Homo sapiens: one gene and its partners. The protein of the gene in region 5 purifies or fractionates together with the protein of the main gene of each other region. This does not show direct contact. Each region holds a gene or a part of one and is shown on either strand. Other genes may lie near its edges.

What was found.
Region 1: the proteins of GRK4 (region 5) and SON purify together in Homo sapiens (affinity purification with mass spectrometry; one large-scale study listed by BioGRID and IntAct). This does not show direct contact.
Region 2: the proteins of GRK4 (region 5) and TUBGCP3 purify together in Homo sapiens (affinity purification with mass spectrometry; one large-scale study listed by BioGRID and IntAct). This does not show direct contact.
Region 3: the proteins of GRK4 (region 5) and TCERG1 purify together in Homo sapiens (affinity purification with mass spectrometry; one large-scale study listed by BioGRID and IntAct). This does not show direct contact.
Region 4: the proteins of GRK4 (region 5) and CKAP5 purify together in Homo sapiens (affinity purification with mass spectrometry; one large-scale study listed by BioGRID and IntAct). This does not show direct contact.

What each region holds. Positions count from the first base shown.
Region 1 is NC_000021.9:33,570,528-33,574,049, reverse strand, and holds part of SON (protein SON), read right to left. Parts: intron 1,500-3,522; exon of another isoform or gene 1,420-1,499; intron 743-1,419; coding exon 595-742; intron 1-594. UniProt on the Homo sapiens protein: RNA-binding protein that acts as a mRNA splicing cofactor by promoting efficient splicing of transcripts that possess weak splice sites.
Region 2 is NC_000013.11:112,578,137-112,581,658, reverse strand, and holds part of TUBGCP3 (gamma-tubulin complex component 3), read left to right. Parts: intron 1-3,522. UniProt on the Homo sapiens protein: Component of the gamma-tubulin ring complex (gTuRC) which mediates microtubule nucleation.
Region 3 is NC_000005.10:146,478,326-146,481,847, reverse strand, and holds part of TCERG1 (transcription elongation regulator 1), read right to left. Parts: intron 3,356-3,522; coding exon 3,195-3,355; intron 1,994-3,194; coding exon 1,937-1,993; intron 1,821-1,936; coding exon 1,754-1,820; exon of another isoform or gene 699-1,753; coding exon 648-698; exon of another isoform or gene 402-647; coding exon of another isoform or gene 278-401; exon of another isoform or gene 1-277. UniProt on the Homo sapiens protein: Transcription factor that binds RNA polymerase II and inhibits the elongation of transcripts from target promoters. Regulates transcription elongation in a TATA box-dependent manner.
Region 4 is NC_000011.10:46,797,767-46,801,288, forward strand, and holds part of CKAP5 (cytoskeleton-associated protein 5), read right to left. Parts: coding exon 3,434-3,522; intron 407-3,433; coding exon 317-406; intron 204-316; coding exon 39-203; intron 1-38. UniProt on the Homo sapiens protein: Binds to the plus end of microtubules and regulates microtubule dynamics and microtubule organization. Acts as a processive microtubule polymerase. Promotes cytoplasmic microtubule nucleation and elongation. Plays a major role in organizing spindle poles.
Region 5 is NC_000004.12:3,036,561-3,038,927, forward strand, and holds part of GRK4 (G protein-coupled receptor kinase 4), read left to right. Parts: intron 1-813; coding exon 814-951; intron 952-1,815; coding exon 1,816-1,953; intron 1,954-2,063; coding exon of another isoform or gene 2,064-2,099; exon of another isoform or gene 2,100-2,367. UniProt on the Homo sapiens protein: Specifically phosphorylates the activated forms of G protein-coupled receptors. GRK4-alpha can phosphorylate rhodopsin and its activity is inhibited by calmodulin; the other three isoforms do not phosphorylate rhodopsin and do not interact with calmodulin.

The DNA of each region.
Region 1 (3,522 bases), on a different chromosome or scaffold from region 5:
GGTATCTGAAGGTAAAAGGAAAATACAGTCAATGCTAACAGTTCCAAGATGCCTTAACACAAGGCAACAGGAAGAAGTAACATTATTGTCAGCAGCTGGTCTACTATACTCTAACCCAACTTAACTACTGAGCTTGGAAGAAAAAAGCAAACAGGGTTTATGAAATCTAGACTAAACCAGTATTGTAATAGGAAATAATGAAGATGTGCTAAAATATCTAACAAAAAATAAACTAAACTCTAGAAAAAAGGATGGTTCCTTGTCAAGAGAAAATAAAATGGAAATCCTGTTTTCTAAACATGAAATCCAGTTGAATTTGGAGGTGTAATAATAAAATTAGATATATACACATTTCCATATTTAGCAACTAGCATAACAAAAGGTGCCTTTTAAAAGTTCAAACTGGTGTCTCTATCCATAGTTATATAAAAATAAGCTGCTCTGTGAACCCCAAAAGGGGTTAATGTTTTTTCTGACAAATACCTGTATATATACAAGAAGTGCCTTCAGTTCAGTATCACTGGGTTCAAAAGGATATATTAAAGGTAATGTTAAAGGAGACGTTAATAAACATTCCAAAAAAGAACTTGTTACCTTTTCGGTCTGTCTTAAAATCAACTAGGATGGGTTCCTTATTGCCTTCTTTGTTTTTTCCTAATCCTTCTCCTTCTCTCCAGCCCATTTTTCTCATCAAAACGGCTCCCATTCCTCCAGTTACCGGGGCTGCTCTTAAGAACTGATCCTATCCAAAGAAAGAAAGGTAAAATGTCCCCATTTTACAGTTAGAACTTGGTGACAGATTCATTGTTTACTTTCTAAAAAGAGGAATCTTACTTTACTTCTAGATCTGTTATAGCAATTAAATGTAAATTCCTCTATACTTTATACATACTGTAGTGTGTATGTTCTGATTATTTGCACATTAACGTAATAGTATTTTGGAAGTCAAATAAGACAAGTAAATGGCAGTTTTGAAACAGTAGCCCTCGTGCCCCCCTCAAAAAAAAAAAATTAGAACACTCCTGTTTTCGTCCACTATTTAGGTTCACTGGTATCTCTTCTTAGCTTGCAAAATAAAAAGAAGGCAATGTTAAAACAATCAATGATATTAATTGTCCCAGGTGTACCTAGTTTATGAATAAAGCCCAGAAATCACTTAGAAATAGTTTAGACACTGAAGAAGCATACTGTTGTCATCCAAAGTTTTCTTCCCCATTCTACTATAAAGCAAGTATAAATATTTTACTTAGAAAATCCCTAAAGCAGAAAAAAAAAAAAAAACTCTTGAAATTTACACAGTAACAAATAGAAAACAATCACATAAAATATCCTGTAAGTATGCCAAAATGAATTTGAATTCTTTTAAAACCTAGCTTGATGTTAAAAGACTTTTAAAAAACTCCTTAAATGTTTACATACCTAGGCCTCGGTAGCAGCAGTGTTGTGAATAGTACGGCTGGCACTGACCGGGGCAAGAAGACAGCTACAAGGATTTGGCCCTGAAACAAGTTTCCATACAGAGGGGTGAAAGTTCACAGGTTATTCTGTGAACAGTCATCTCTCTTGTATCCAACCCACTGAACCATAATTTCCATCAAAGCAGCAAACCACTTAATGTCCTAAGATGCACAAGTATATATACATTAGCATGGTCAACAGTTATTTTTACAGGTTAAGAAATATTCAATGCCTCTTATTAAAGGGCATCCATGTACATATAGCAAACAGTATTAAGTTGTACTGTTGATCTTTATGGTCATTTTTTAAAAATTTGAAACATATCTCCAAATCATGCTTTATTTTCCCCTTGTTACTAAATTTTAGGTTTTTATGTTCTCTTACCAAATATATATATATATATATATATAAATATATAATATAGCAAAAGTCATTAACTTATCAACAGAGAGAGTAAAAAAACTTCAGTAGCTCAGGAAATAGTATGCACATCTCCTATATTGATAAGTTAATACTGAATGTAAAAAAGAAATGTTTGTATGCAGTAGTAAAACTGTATCTATCATCTTTTGTTTCCCAGCTTTGTAATTAAATGCTGGGGAGAAAACATGCCAATGACGTGTGACTAGACATTAAGTTCATCAAGGTGCTCTGATGGAAGGAGGCAGCTGTGGAGGTAAAAACATACCCCTGGTTCAGTTCCTTATTTGGTGCAGGCCATGCAGTGTAGATGTATAAAGAGAAAGCTGATGCTTGGATATTAACTGCCTTGATGCTACACACCTAGAATGTCTTTTACTTACTTCCAGGTTCATCCGTCCCTCTTTTCCAGGGAACACGCCTAAAAAAAAGGGCAACTGTGCAGAGTACAATATAAATCCCCAAATAACCCAGGTTTCCAATTTTGTTTCCATTCCCTAGTATCATCATCTGTTTCTTTACCCCAGTGTGAAAAAGCTGATTAATTTAATGAGACCACAATAACAAACTGTATTTATCAGGTCACATCCAAATCATTCCATTCTAGAAATAAAATTTCTTTTAAACGAACTACTTTAAATGTTTTACTGATTAATGAGACTACTGATAAAACTTTGCTTTTTTTGTAATCTAAAAATACACTGCAACAAACTAAAAAGAACACGGAGGATGTTGGTATTCCATGTGTTTTTTAACACATAAGGCAGATGCTGGACTATACTAAAGAAGAGCCAAAATGATCGTTTGACAGGTTTTCTAAACACAACTAAACATTTAATGAGTAGACAATATTTGTGATATTTAACATGGATCATACATCCTAAATTTTCAGCTGCCTAATGACTTCTACATGTTGTGGCCCATTTTTAATTTTCAAAAGTTTCTTTTTTAGTTGATACTAGCATCAAATATTCTTCAGTAATTCTATACAAATGAATCTTTTCCTTTAAGTGCTACTTTTATCTATAATTTAAAATTTGGTCTGAACATATCTTTATCTCATAATTTATCAAAATAATTTGCTTCCCAAAGTATATCTTACATAAAATATAAAGTTGAAGCCTTTTTTCAAGGTGCTACTAAACATTTTAAAGTTATTAAAGTCTGTTAACTGCCTACAAGACTGCAAATACCAGAAGAAATTATTTTAGGGGAAAACCAATTGAGTCAGTAAAAGATTCACTTTTTAAAAGTTATTTAAGTTATTAACACATTTATAAGTATACAAACATTATGGATCAGCACATCATTAGATAAAGACCAAAATTTTGTAATGGAAGCACATTCAGAAGTTTCTACCTAGCAGTGTACATGACTCTGTATTATGTGCCTATTTTAACACCCATAAGCTTTATTTCTAACTTCCTGAAATACTGGCTGAGTACTTAGCTTCAAGACTAAATAGTATTAAAGAATTAAAACTAAAGAAATAGATGTACATTTATAGTTCTTCCAAAGATGAAAGACATTTTTTCAAATATTATATAAATCACTTTCATAGTAACTATAATATAGAAGTCCAAGATTAATCCAATCTTTAAAATATTTTGCTATATACATTTTCACCCTTTATTCTAACACCAA
Region 2 (3,522 bases), on a different chromosome or scaffold from region 5:
GCCTGGGCAACATGGTAAGACCCTGTCTGTACAGAAAATATAAAAATTAGCTGGATGTGGTGACACATACCTGTAGTCCCAGCTACTTGGGAGGCTGAGGTGGGGGAATCACTTGAGCCCAGGAGGCAGAGGTTGCAGGGAGCCGAGATCTTACCACTGCACTCCAGCCTGGGCGACAGAGTGAGACCTTGTCTGGGAAAAAAAAAATTCTTAAATAGTGACACAACTTTTAAAGGAAACTTTTCAATGATACTTTTAATATTTGTAAAATTAATATATACGCAGTGTAAAAATTCAGAAAGTGGAAAAATATAAGGAGAAAAAAACTACCCCGACCCTGTGACCCCACAAAACATTTTAGATTTCATTTTGTTCCTTTCCCCACTATGCAGGCATTCACTGGATCCTTGCTGACACAGTGCGCTTGTGTCTGCTTTAGCTAGAATAGGGACAGAAAGATGGGGGGGTGTGAGTCCTTAGAGGATGTGGAGAAGAGAGAGCTGGGTGCCGAGCTGGAGGTGAGCTTGGTGTGTTCCAGGAATAGCAGGAGTGCAATGTGGGGAGCAAGGGGCCGGCTCCCTGGGCTGGGGCCAGGAGGTTGGGTTCTGTTGTGAGTGTGATGGGTGTGTGAGCAGAGTGATGATAATATTTATATTTTAAGAGGATCACTTTGACTGCTGGGTGGATAATTCACTCTAAGGGGGCAAAGGTGGAAGCAAGTGAGCAGCTCCTCAGGAGACTTCCTGTAATGGGATGGTAGCTGTGGAGTGATCATATTTGGGATATGCTTTTAGAAATAGAATCAACAGGATTTGCTGATCTAAATAATTACTTAATAGTCTGAAAATGTCTTTATTTCTCTTACGCTTCTATTCCTGAACTCTTGGATCATCAGTCAGATATAGATATTCTGGTCTGAAGTGTTTTTCCTCTGCCCACTTTGAAGGTATTCTTTCATTATTGATGAGAAGTCTGATGTTAATCCATTTCTTACTCCTTTGAAGATGTGTCTGGTAGCTTTTAGAATTTTAAAAAATCCTGCATGTTCTGAAATTTTGCAATAATGTGTCTAGGTGTGGAACTTAAAAATTTACCTGGATTAACACTTGATGATCCTTCAATCTGAGGACTTTTCCTTTTTTTAAAATTTATTATTTTTTTCAAAGCTAGTGACAGACTTAGAATTTTTTTTTTGAGAAGGATCTTGCTGTATTGTCCAGGCTGGTCGCAAACTCCTGGGCTCAAGTGATCCACCTCAGCCCCTGAAAGTGTTGCAATTACAGGTGTGAGCCACCACGCAGGGCTGACTTTTTTTTAATGATAGAAAAATTTTACTATTTTTTCTTCATAATTTCTAACTGTTCTTTTGTTGTGTTTGATTTTCTAGCTTGCATTTAAATTGTCCTTTAGTATCTCCATTCTGCTATTTAGCCCATTTAAAAAAATTCTCAGTGTTTAGGTTCACAGTGATTTCCTCTGTGCTACCATTTTGCCTTTGTGCTGGCCGCCACCATCCTGTGTCTGTGTATGTCTCCGCTTCTAGAATTTCACGTAAATGCAGTCATACAGTGTTCAGTCAAAAGTTTTGAGACTTGTTTCTTTCACTTAGTATAACGCGTTTGAGATGCATTTACAGTGCCATATCAATAGTTCACCTTTTCATTGCAGAGTAGTGTTCCATTGTATGATGAACCAGTTTATCCATTTTACCACTGAGGGACATTTGGAGTGCTTCCGTTTTTGGCAGTTATGGATAATGCTGCTATGAACATTCATGGACAGGTTTTTTATGTGAACTTAAGTTAGTTTTCTAGAATAAACACCTGCAAGTGGGGTTGTTGGGCCTCAGGGCAGGTGCATGCTCATTGTTTTCAGAAGTTGCCAGACTCTTTTCCAGTATGGCTGTGGCTGCTTTGCCGCTGCACCAGCAGTGTGGGAGAGCTCCAGGGATGCCATGGCTCCACCCGCACACAGCAGTGTGGGAGAGCTCCAGGGATGCCATGGCTCCACCCCCACTCAGCAGTGTGGGAGAGCTCCAGGGATGCCATGGCTCCACCCGCACACAGCAGTGTGGGAGAGCTCCAGGGATGCCGTGGCCCCCCGGCACTCAGCAGTGTGGGAGAGCTCCAGGGATGCCGTGGCCCCCTGACACTCAGCAGTGTGCGAGAGCTCCGGGGATGCCGTGGCCCCGCGGGCACTCAGCAGTGTGGGAGAGCTGCAGGGATGCCGTGGCCCCGCTGGCACTCAGCAGTGTGCGAGAGCCCCAGGGATGCCGTGGCCCCGCGGGCATTCAGCAGTGTGGGAGAGCTCCAGGGATGCCGTGGCCCCACTGTCACTCAGCAGTGTGGGAGAGCTCCAGGGATGCCGTGGCCCCACCTGCACTCAGCAGTGTTAGTGGTTTTTAATCTTAGCTATTCTAGCAAGTGTGTTGTGATATCTCAGTGTGGTTTTAATTTTAATTTTCCTAGTGATGTTGAACATCTTTGTGTGTGTGTGTGTGTTTGCCATTCATATGTCTTCTTGGTGAATTATCTGTTCAAAACTTTTGCTTATGTCTTTGTGTTTTGCACATATTTTTTCTCAGTATTTTCATTCTCTTAACAGTGTCTTTTGCAGAGCAAAAGTTTTTAATCTTGATGAAGGCCAATGTATGAATTTCTAAAAAAATGGGTCATCATTTTGGTGTCATGTAGGAACTCTGCCAAACTCAAAGTTGCAAAGATTTCTTTGTTTTGTTTTATTTCTAAGAGGGGCTTATGTTTTACTCTTCTATTTAATTTTTGCTGGGGTGATCAGACCCAACACCAGGTCGTGGGGGTGACGAAGTCTGGTGGAGTCGAAGGAATGAGAAAAGACAGTTTGAGAGCGAAAGTGGGTCCAGGGGGCCATCGCTAAGTATGGAGGCTGTGAAGGCCCTGAGCTCTGGAAGCCCAGACTATTTATTGGTGATCAAACAAAGAAACAGGTGGTGAGAATGTGGGGGTCGAAAGGTCGCGTTGCATTAAGCACATGATTTACAGGTGTGATGATTTAGCATCTGCTCTGCTACTTGAGATAATGGAGAGCAGGTTCTTTTTTTTTTTTTTTTTTTTTTTTTTTTGAGACGGAGTCTCACTCTTTCGCCCAAGCTGGACTGCAGTGGCGCTATCCCGGCTCACTGCAAGCTCCGCCTCTTGGGTTCATGCCATTCTCCTGCCTCAGCCTCCCGAGTAGCTGGGATTACAGGCGCCCACCACCACGCCCGGCTAATTTTTTGTATTTTTAGTAGAGACGGGGTTTCACCGTGTTAGCCAGGATGGTCTCGATCTCCTGACCTCGTGATCCGCCCGCCTCGGCCTCCCAAAGTGCTGGGATTACAGGCGTGAGCCACCGCGCCCGGCCGAGAGCAGGTTCTTTTAACTCAAGATACAATCGATCCTGGGAGAGCAAGGAGCAAGGAGCCAGCAAGTCTAGACACATTCCAGAGCCACGAGTCCTGGATTCCATCCAAGCCACGAGGGGTTTTATGCCCTGGGCTGAGAT
Region 3 (3,522 bases), on a different chromosome or scaffold from region 5:
TGTGTGGTACTCAAGTGAAATTGTAAACATGGAATCACGGCACCTCTCAAATATATGCACTATGAAAAAGGCCCATTCACGTAAATAATCCAAAAAAGTATGTAATTCAATAATATCTGGGTGTATTTTAGCAGATCTTCCTTCTTAAATATGATCTGCTAAGTATATTTTAAAAATTGGCTCTTATTCCCTATACAAACTTAAGGGAATTAGGAAAACAGAACATGTGGAAATTCAAAAGCATGCTATACAGGAAACTGTAGGTAGCCCCAGAGATTTAAATGGAACTAAGGCTAACCCACAAATGCAAGTGAGAGGTACTTAGCAACTTAGGCAATGAATCAAAAGAAATAGAAGACATAGTCCGTGACCTGCAGGAACTTAGCGAGATAGTCTGTGACCTAAGATATGCACAAAACAAACAGGTAAAAGCAATTTGCCAAACAATATACCCTCTTATAATAATAATTTTAAAACTATTTAAATAGTTAGAGTTAAAAGACATCCAAGAAGTAACTAATAAAAACAAATAACCTTTATAGAACTATACTAAATGAAAATGTCACAATACAAACTATCACTATCTATCTCAATAAAGGAAATAAAAGAAAAACTAAGCCAGGAAAAACAGGCTTTTAGCTTTGTACCTAAATAGAGAAGCTCGGGCAATCCACATAAAGGACTTCTTTGACATTCTCCTGATAAAAGCAGTTAAAAACCTTACAGAGTTGTCTATAAGAACAAACAATTAAAAACAACCTAAAAGTTTAACATCGTAGGAACATCCAAAATTATGGTACATAAACAGAATGAATACAGTCATTTATAATAATTAACAAAACAAATGTCTTATTCTAGGTTTTTTTTTTTTAAAAAAAAAGCACAAAATCAGTTAATCACAACTAATAAAAATTACATTTGGTCAAGAACTAAAAAGTCAATTGCAAAAATGAGAATAGCTATGTTACGCTGATAAATTATGAGTGATTCTTTCATATCTTTTATGTTGTTGCCAATAAAGAAATTTTTTTTAAAAGAACTACCCTTTATAGGGGTTGTCCTACTGATTTCTTTGCCATAATTTGGCTGCATTCAATCTGTCCTTTTCAGATAAGGACTACAATTAACCAGTTCCTGTTAATGTCTTCAAACTTTCCTTTTTGCTGCTAAATAATGGTCCCATTCCCCATACATGCATACCCTCTACCCCATCCTTCCCCCCGCCATAACATTTACATTTTACCCAACTCTAGAGCACTGGCCAAGCTAATGCCTCTACTTCTTAGCAGTCTCTTTCTCGCAGAGCACTTCCTAAGCTTATGGGTTCTCTCCTCACCAAGGAGTTAATGACCAGACTCAAGGACTAGGTAAGTCGTAAGATAACCATATAAAGAGGGAGAAGTCTGTGTCTGTTTTTATGAGATCTCTGGAATGGTATCCATTGGGGTCTAAATGAGGGAGGAAACTAACTTTTCATAAAATTGAGACCTAATAAATTTCCAAAAAGAATTAATTCCAAAACTATCATTTGGAGTCATAATACATATATGAATACCCAAATCTTCTACAAATCTAGCAAAAGAAGGGACACATTTTCTACAATGAAAAACAAAGCTATTTATTATCAGGCCTAAGAGAGCAATCATGCCTCCTAACAACATTCACATTACCTGTCCCTTCCAATCACAAATTATTACCAAATCGACTTTTAAAAGATATAATCTACCTCAATCAAATCGTATGTATTACTTACTTCCGTTTTTTTGCTTTAACAGGCTCATCTTCATTAATTTCTTCCATTAATTCTTGTTCCTCTTTAACTATAAGACAAAATTTAATTAAAATATTTAGGAATGAATCCTTCTGCTAATCACTACCAGAACACTTGCTTTAATAGTATTAAAAAGAAGCTGCAATTTATGGTTAGTTCACTCACTTGCACTCATAGAGAATTGCCACTTTTGGATCGACAGCATTGTCGGAGTTGGGTGCCCTGGCAAAAACATTTCAAATATTGTTACAAAGTCATTTGCATATATTTCACAAACTTTTCTTTTTAAAAATTACTGTTTACATAATATATTCACCTCTTAATATTCATCCCTTTATAAAACATTAAACAAAGCATAATTCTACACTTCCTCTATTTATCCTCCCTTTACATTAAATTTAATTCATTTTGAAATGTTTCTTGCCCAAACCTTAAATTTACAAATATATAAAATAAAGCTTTCTTGATTCAGGATTTACAGTACCTTTTAACAATGCACGTTAATGTATTTATCAAATGAATGAATCAAATATTTAAAAACAAATTCACGAAAAACAAAAGAAAATCACATATTGTTTCAACATCATTCAATACCATAGTTATAAAGTATTATTATCATACCTATAAAACAAGTATTGCTGAAGGTGAGCCTAGTACCTTCAGCACTAGATAGGCAAAGCGGCACTGACTCAGAAATTACTTATAATTCAGCATATATATAATGCATGAAAATGTCTCAATGACTATAAATGATACACACTAGGATTTATTTCATTAGAAGCATTAAATAATTCATTTATCTTGCTTCTATACCACTTGCGGGCCACAGTTCTATAAAAACACAATCATATCAACACAAGGGCAAATTACCAATAAGAAATACACAACAAAAATTACGTACAAATATCTGTACTCAATATATTAGTATGCCCTCTGAATATGAGATAGATTAAAAGATAATCTCTTAGTAAGGTTTAGGTGTCTAGTCTCAGGAATATAAGGAGCTTACCATCTAATTCAAAAGATTGAGATTTTGTATTTTTAAAAAATTTGTAATGTATTATTTCAAGAAATATATTACTAGTCACAAAAGGTGCTAAAAGGCCCACCGAGGAGCATTTTAGTAGTATTGATAAGCACTAAGCAAGCAGCAACACTACCAACCATATCTTGGACTAACTGAAAATCTTGAGTAGGACAATAAATTAAAGACACACATATTTTACAAAGCACAATCTTATCCAAATTCTCTCCATATTTTTAATCTCTATTATTTCATTCAAACTAGGATAGCAGTCTATTTTTTTCGAATGCTTCTTATATTCTTTGAAAAATAAAGGGTTTCTAAATGCCTTCCACATTTTCTATCAAAATATGAAAAGAATGTTAAAATCAGTGGATAAATTCCTAATTTAAAACTTACTTAGTTTCTTCAATTCCTCCATTCCTTTTTTATGAGGGGGCTCCTGAATAATTTTGTCAACATCTGCCCTGCCAATCAGATCATCAGGTCGGTCCCACATAGAAAGACGAGTGGTGGGATTATAAAAGAAGACCCGCTCATCACCAGTCCAAACGACACACCTAAGAATTGATGCAAAATATCATTCTCTTATGTTACAGAACATATTTTACAGCTAGGACTTCTTTCAGCCTGTTACAAGTAGGGAGATGAGGGTACTGAAGAACGACATGTTCTTATTACCAATAGTTATTTACAGAGAACCAAACATGGTTTTTACAAGATAACT
Region 4 (3,522 bases), on a different chromosome or scaffold from region 5:
GTATAAAATATTCCCCCAACTTCAAAGAGAGTCTGTACCTTAAGTAGTGCAGCACAAAAGGGCTTTAGCAAGCTCTTTGGCAGGGTAGAAGCAGTGCAGTGGCGGAAACTTCTTGCAATAAAAAGAGATGTCTGCTGCTTGATGGTTGGATTTTTATTATCCATTACTGCTAAAACATCCTCACTGATGTTCTGTAGTGTGGTCTTTAGAAAGAAAATGTGGTTAATGAGCTTTTTTCAATTGTAAAGAACAATCAAAATATTATATTTACAAACTTTACTTCAGATAAAACTACAAACTCATGCTGTCAACTTACAGTAAGGAAGATTGCATCAATTGCCTCCTGCAGGGCTTGTACCACTTGAGGTTTCTTCTCTTTGAATTTCTCCAAGATGGTTGGCACAACCTGTAAAAGTGAATGGCTAGCACATTATTCAGCAACAAAGAGGAATGATATATTGATATATCCTAGAACATGGCTGAACCTTAAAAATAGTATGCTAAGTTAAAAAAAAAGCCAGTCACAGGCTGGGCACAGTGACTCATGCCTGTAATCCCAGCACTTTGGGAGGCTGAGGCAGGTGGGTTGCTTGAGGCAAGGAGTTCAAGACCAGCCTGGGCAACAGAGTGAGATCTTGTCTCTACTAAAACAAACAAAAAAAAATTAGCCAGGTGTGGTGGTATGTGCCTATGATCCCAGCTACTTGGGAGGCTGAGGTGGGAGGATTACTTGAACCCAGGAGGTCAAAGCTGCAGTGAGCTACGACTGCATCACTGTATTGTAGCCTGGGCAACACAGCAAGACCCTGTCTTCCAAAAAAAAAAAAAAAGCAGTCACAAAGACCATGTATTGTATGACTCCATTTACATGAAATGTTAAATCCAGAGACAAAAAAGTAGATTAGTGGTTGCTAGAGTCAAGGGCAGGGAGCAGCATGGGGAGAGACTGTTAATGGGCAAGGGGTTTCTTTTTGGGGTGATGAAGATGTTCTGGAATTAGATAGTGCTGATGGTTATGTAACATTGTGAATATTCTAAAATCACTTTAAGAGGGTAAATTTTATAGTATGCAAGTTTTATCTCAATAAAACTTACTTTCTAAAAAACCACCTTGTCTCCACCAAAACAAACCAATAAAGCAAACATTTAAGTGGAATAAAAAGTCATTTCCTTTCATGAAGGACATCGTATCTTATGCCGGAACAATGAAGAATTCTCATTCTCTCCCACTATGGCAGTGCTTCTCAACCTATTTGCCGCCTCTGCTCTGTCACCCACGTGGGAGTGCAGTGGGATGAACATGGCTCACTGAAGCCTCGGCCTCCTGGGCTCAAGTAATCCTCTCATCTCAGCCTCCCGAGTAGGTAGGCCTCAGGTATATGTCACCACACCTGCTATTTTTTTTTTTAATTCTTAATTTCTTGACCATTTCCCTGTAAATATAATTTTTTATTTTATTTTTTGTCGAGACGGGGGTTTCTCCATGTTGCCCAGGCTGGGGAAGAAAATTTCTAAGGTCCAAAGGACACAGCAAAGCTCAATGGCATCCAAAAACAAGAAATAATTGTTTTCAAGATTTCACAGAAGTGGTTATAGACTACTTGGTATAGTTCAAGGACTATGGTTCCCATGGAAAAATACAAGACTTTTTAATACTAGTTATAAACTTGAAAATCAAGATATTTTAATGTCTATAAAGCTAACATTCACTTTTATAAATATTGCCAAAAAGTTTGTAAACATTTAAAGAAAATAAAGCCAAGTCAGTAACATGCTTGATACTAAACACCGCATATATTACAGTATTAAGGTGGGGGAGACCCCAAACTACAGAGCAATAGAGACATTCTTTAACCAGGACAACAAACTGAAACAAAGCCAGAATCAGAACTCAAACTGGAAAGCCAGTTAATTATCCAACCATAATTTGGTAAATTAAAATGAATTTTAGGCCGGGTGTGGTGGCTCAAGCCTGTAATCCCAGCACTTTGGGAGGCTGAGGCAGGCAGATAGCTTGAGCTCAGGATTTCGAGACCAGCCTGGGCAAGGTGGCAAAACCCCATCTCTACCAAAAATACAAAAAGTACTCAAGCATGGTGTGGGGTGTGCCTGAAGTCCCAGCTACTCAGGAGACTGAGGTGGGAGGATCACCTGCGCCTAGGAGGTTAAGGCTGCAGTGAACTGAGATGGTGCCACTGCACTCCAGCCTGGGTGACAAAGTGAGACCCTGTCTCAAAAAAAAAAAACTAAAATTATTCTCTGAACTGATATTTAAGTGGTGTAGGAAAAAATTGTTTTTTATCTTGAAAAATTATTCCCAATATAAAAGTGTAAAATATCCTAAGTAATATAAAATTGATCAAAATGGCATATACACATCGATATTATATAATATTGATTGCTATAAAAATAGATTTTAATTTTATTTCAATTTATGATGTATATGTCTAAGGGTTTTACAGACCCTTATTTTTATTTCCCTAGTAATAAGCCAGTCATGATTTATTTTTATTTGGTAGTGTCTTCTTTTTCTTCAGTTAAGTTCTCTGAGATTATTTTTAATGCTATGAGTAAGCAAGCTCCAAATACCATAGCTCATGTGAGGCTAGGTATTAGCTTCACAATATAAAATGGACACATGACTAGGGACTATTAGGAAACTCCTAAGTCAGTCTAGGGAATCAAATGATGAAGGGGCTAGCAAGCTAAACTCTAAAGATCAATAAGGTCAATTTTTAGGATGCTGAGCCATTCTTAGTAATGCAGACCGGATTTAGAGGCCAAAGGACAGATGCCACAGTTAAAGAAAACATCTTAATTAAAATTATTACCAAATTTGATTGGAAACAAACTTATACAAATAGTAAGTCAACAAATGTCTCCAGTCAGATTTTCTTTGAATAAGTAAAACGGAGATAACCTATATAAAATATATAACATTGTAACCTATATAAAATGTCTCAAATATGTAAGTAAATTATATATTAAAATAGGAAAACAATGTAAAACACATTTTATATATTAACCTCACAGTTTTACATTTATAGTTTTACATTGCCTTTCCGACTCTCATTTTCATTCTGGTCCTGGTCGTTACAAGTTTTGTTTCATCTTGTTATGATGTGTATAATGTTGTAAGAACAAAGCAAGATACTAGTAAGTAAATAAGTAATAAGCAAATAAATAAACTCAACTAAGTACTTTAGGCCTAGTGCCTGACTTTCTACATAAGGCCTATAAATTTTGTTACAACTGACATCTACTGAAATTTCTAAGATATATCTATGCTGAATATTAACAAAACAGAGAGAAATTTACTTTGTACAGTATATACACATCTATGCCAAGGAGTTGTTTTAAAGCAAACAGCAAACTAGGCCTACCATTTTTGATAAATTTTGTTGATCTGTATCTAAAAAGGAGTGTTACTTACATGTCCTGCATATTGTCCAAATTTCTTCCTTAGCCCAACAGCCAGGCCAGTAAGACATTTTGCTGCCAAAGCCACCAACATGACATTGG
Region 5 (2,367 bases):
TTGTTCCTTTGCCCTGAAAGTGCAAGGAACTGTACTGGCGGCAGGTGGAGACCCGGACCTTGGCACTCCCTCCTGCCTGCCTGACCCTCTGCCTCTGAGGACAGCAGTGCCGGGATAGGAGCTGCAGACCTGGGTTCCTGTCCCAGAGGAGGGACCTGCTGATTCAGGGAGCTGAGCGGAGGGATGAGGTCCCTTGCAGCCTTGGAGACCACTCAGTGGACCTGCAGGAGGATGGGAAGTGGGAGCTGCTGCTGTTCCTCAGGTTTTCTCCGGGTGCTTTGCCAGGAGTGCACCAAGAATTGGAGGCAGGGGCGAGAATTGTCACTAAGGGATCCCACCGCTGGTGGCCTCTGTCCCTGTTCACACTTCTCCGGTTCTGTGCTGCATCTTCCAATACGTGCAGTCCACCCTGCCCTGCATCCCTGACCTCTGTTTGCAATCCATTTTGCACTACGGAAAGGAGAAGGGCATGGCCTCAGGAGGGGTGTGTGTGTGTGTGTGTGTGTGTGTATGTGTGTGTGTATGTGTGTGTGTGTGTGTGTGAGAAAGAGGGAGAGAGCCAGGGCATGCAAGGGACCTGGCACAGACAGTACCACAAAATTGGTGACACTAAAAGCTGGCGAACCACCTCTTCAGAGGACACATTCTGTGATTTAGAAAATGCCTCAAGTGAGAGGGGCCTGGCAAAAGAATGGAGACAGGGAGAGTGGCGGTGTTTATGCGTCAGTTTGCTGGGCGTTTCATTCTTGGGAACTGAGGGAGCTGAGAATTGCTGTAGTCATCTCAGAGGCTGCCCCTGTTCTTGCTACACAGCCTCATGCCGTTTACTGTAAGGACGTCCTGGATATCGAGCAGTTCTCGGTGGTGAAAGGGATCTACCTGGACACCGCAGATGAAGACTTCTATGCTCGGTTTGCTACCGGGTGTGTCTCCATCCCCTGGCAGAATGAGGTACTGCCCTTCCAGCACAGCCGCTTTACGTTAGTTCCAACAGTGACCCAGGGAAAAGGGTGTGTGTGTGTCCGTGTGTGTGTGTGTGTCTGTGTGTATTTGGGAGATAAAATTATATAAGACGGCTGGGCGCAGTGGCTCACGCCTGTAATCCCAGCACTTTGGGAGGCTGAGGCAGGCAGATCATGAGGTCAGGAGTTCGAGACCAGCCTGGCCAACATAGTGAAACCCTGTCTCTACTAAAAGTACAAAAATTAGCCAGGCATGGTGGCAGGCACCTGTAGTCCCAGCTAGTAGGGATGCTGAGGCAGGAGAATCGCTTGAACCTGGGAGGCAGAAGTTGCAGTGAGCTGAGATTGCGCCACTGTACTCCACCTTGGGCGACAGAACGAGACTTCGTCTCACCCAAAAAAAAAAAAAAAAAGATTGTATAAGACTTTTGACCACAGGACTAGACCATGGGCAAGCCAAGGACCATATCAGCAGCTGTCCAGAAGCACAGCGGCTGTCCCTGGTCCCAATGACAGGAAGTGGACAGGAGGTAGCTATTTTGGGTCTGATGGGAGCTTGCCTGCCACCCCGAGCCCCACTCCCTAAGCAGGGCTGGCTGGCAGCCAGGGTTCCCATGGTAGTTCCCTGCTTTGGGAGTACACTCAGAGACAAGGGGAGAGGAGACCACATTACTTATTCCAAGAAGAGGTCAGGAAGCAGGGAAGGAGGAACCCAGAAAAGGGGCCCCACAGTGGGTGCAGGAGCTCTGAGGTGCCCCGCACGGGGCTGGGCAGGAGCTGCTGGCACTGGGAGACACCCACTGACCTGGCAGTTTCTCTGCGGCTTCTCTGTCCTGTTATTCTGTGCATGCAGATGATCGAATCTGGGTGTTTCAAAGACATCAACAAAAGTGAAAGTGAGGAAGCTTTGCCATTAGATCTAGACAAGAACATACATACCCCGGTTTCCAGACCAAACAGAGGCTTCTTCTATAGACTCTTCAGAAGAGGGGTAAAAAGACTTAAAAACTAATATATGTGTGTGTATGTGAAAAAAAAAAAAACATACTGACTGCCAAGGTGAAAACCTGGTACTTTTTCTGTTTGCGATGGCTCCTACAGGCAGTTTTATACAGTCTGAGAGCCACATGGTGCTAGGTGGAGGCCAGCCAGAACAATGAGAACACCCTCGCAGTGAGGTTTGTTGCTGGGATGAAGACTGTTCTGATCCAAAACAGGACTACCTTCCAGCATTTACAAACAGGTTCCCGTGTCGCTGACAAAATAGTTTACACTGGGCTCAGAAATCGGCATCCTGTGGAACCTTCGTCAGATGGCACTCACAGTGCATCTCTCCCTGCTCTGGCTCTTAGACTCACCTCCTTCGCCCGCTGCACGGGGAAAGTGGATTCCTTTTTGAAAAGGG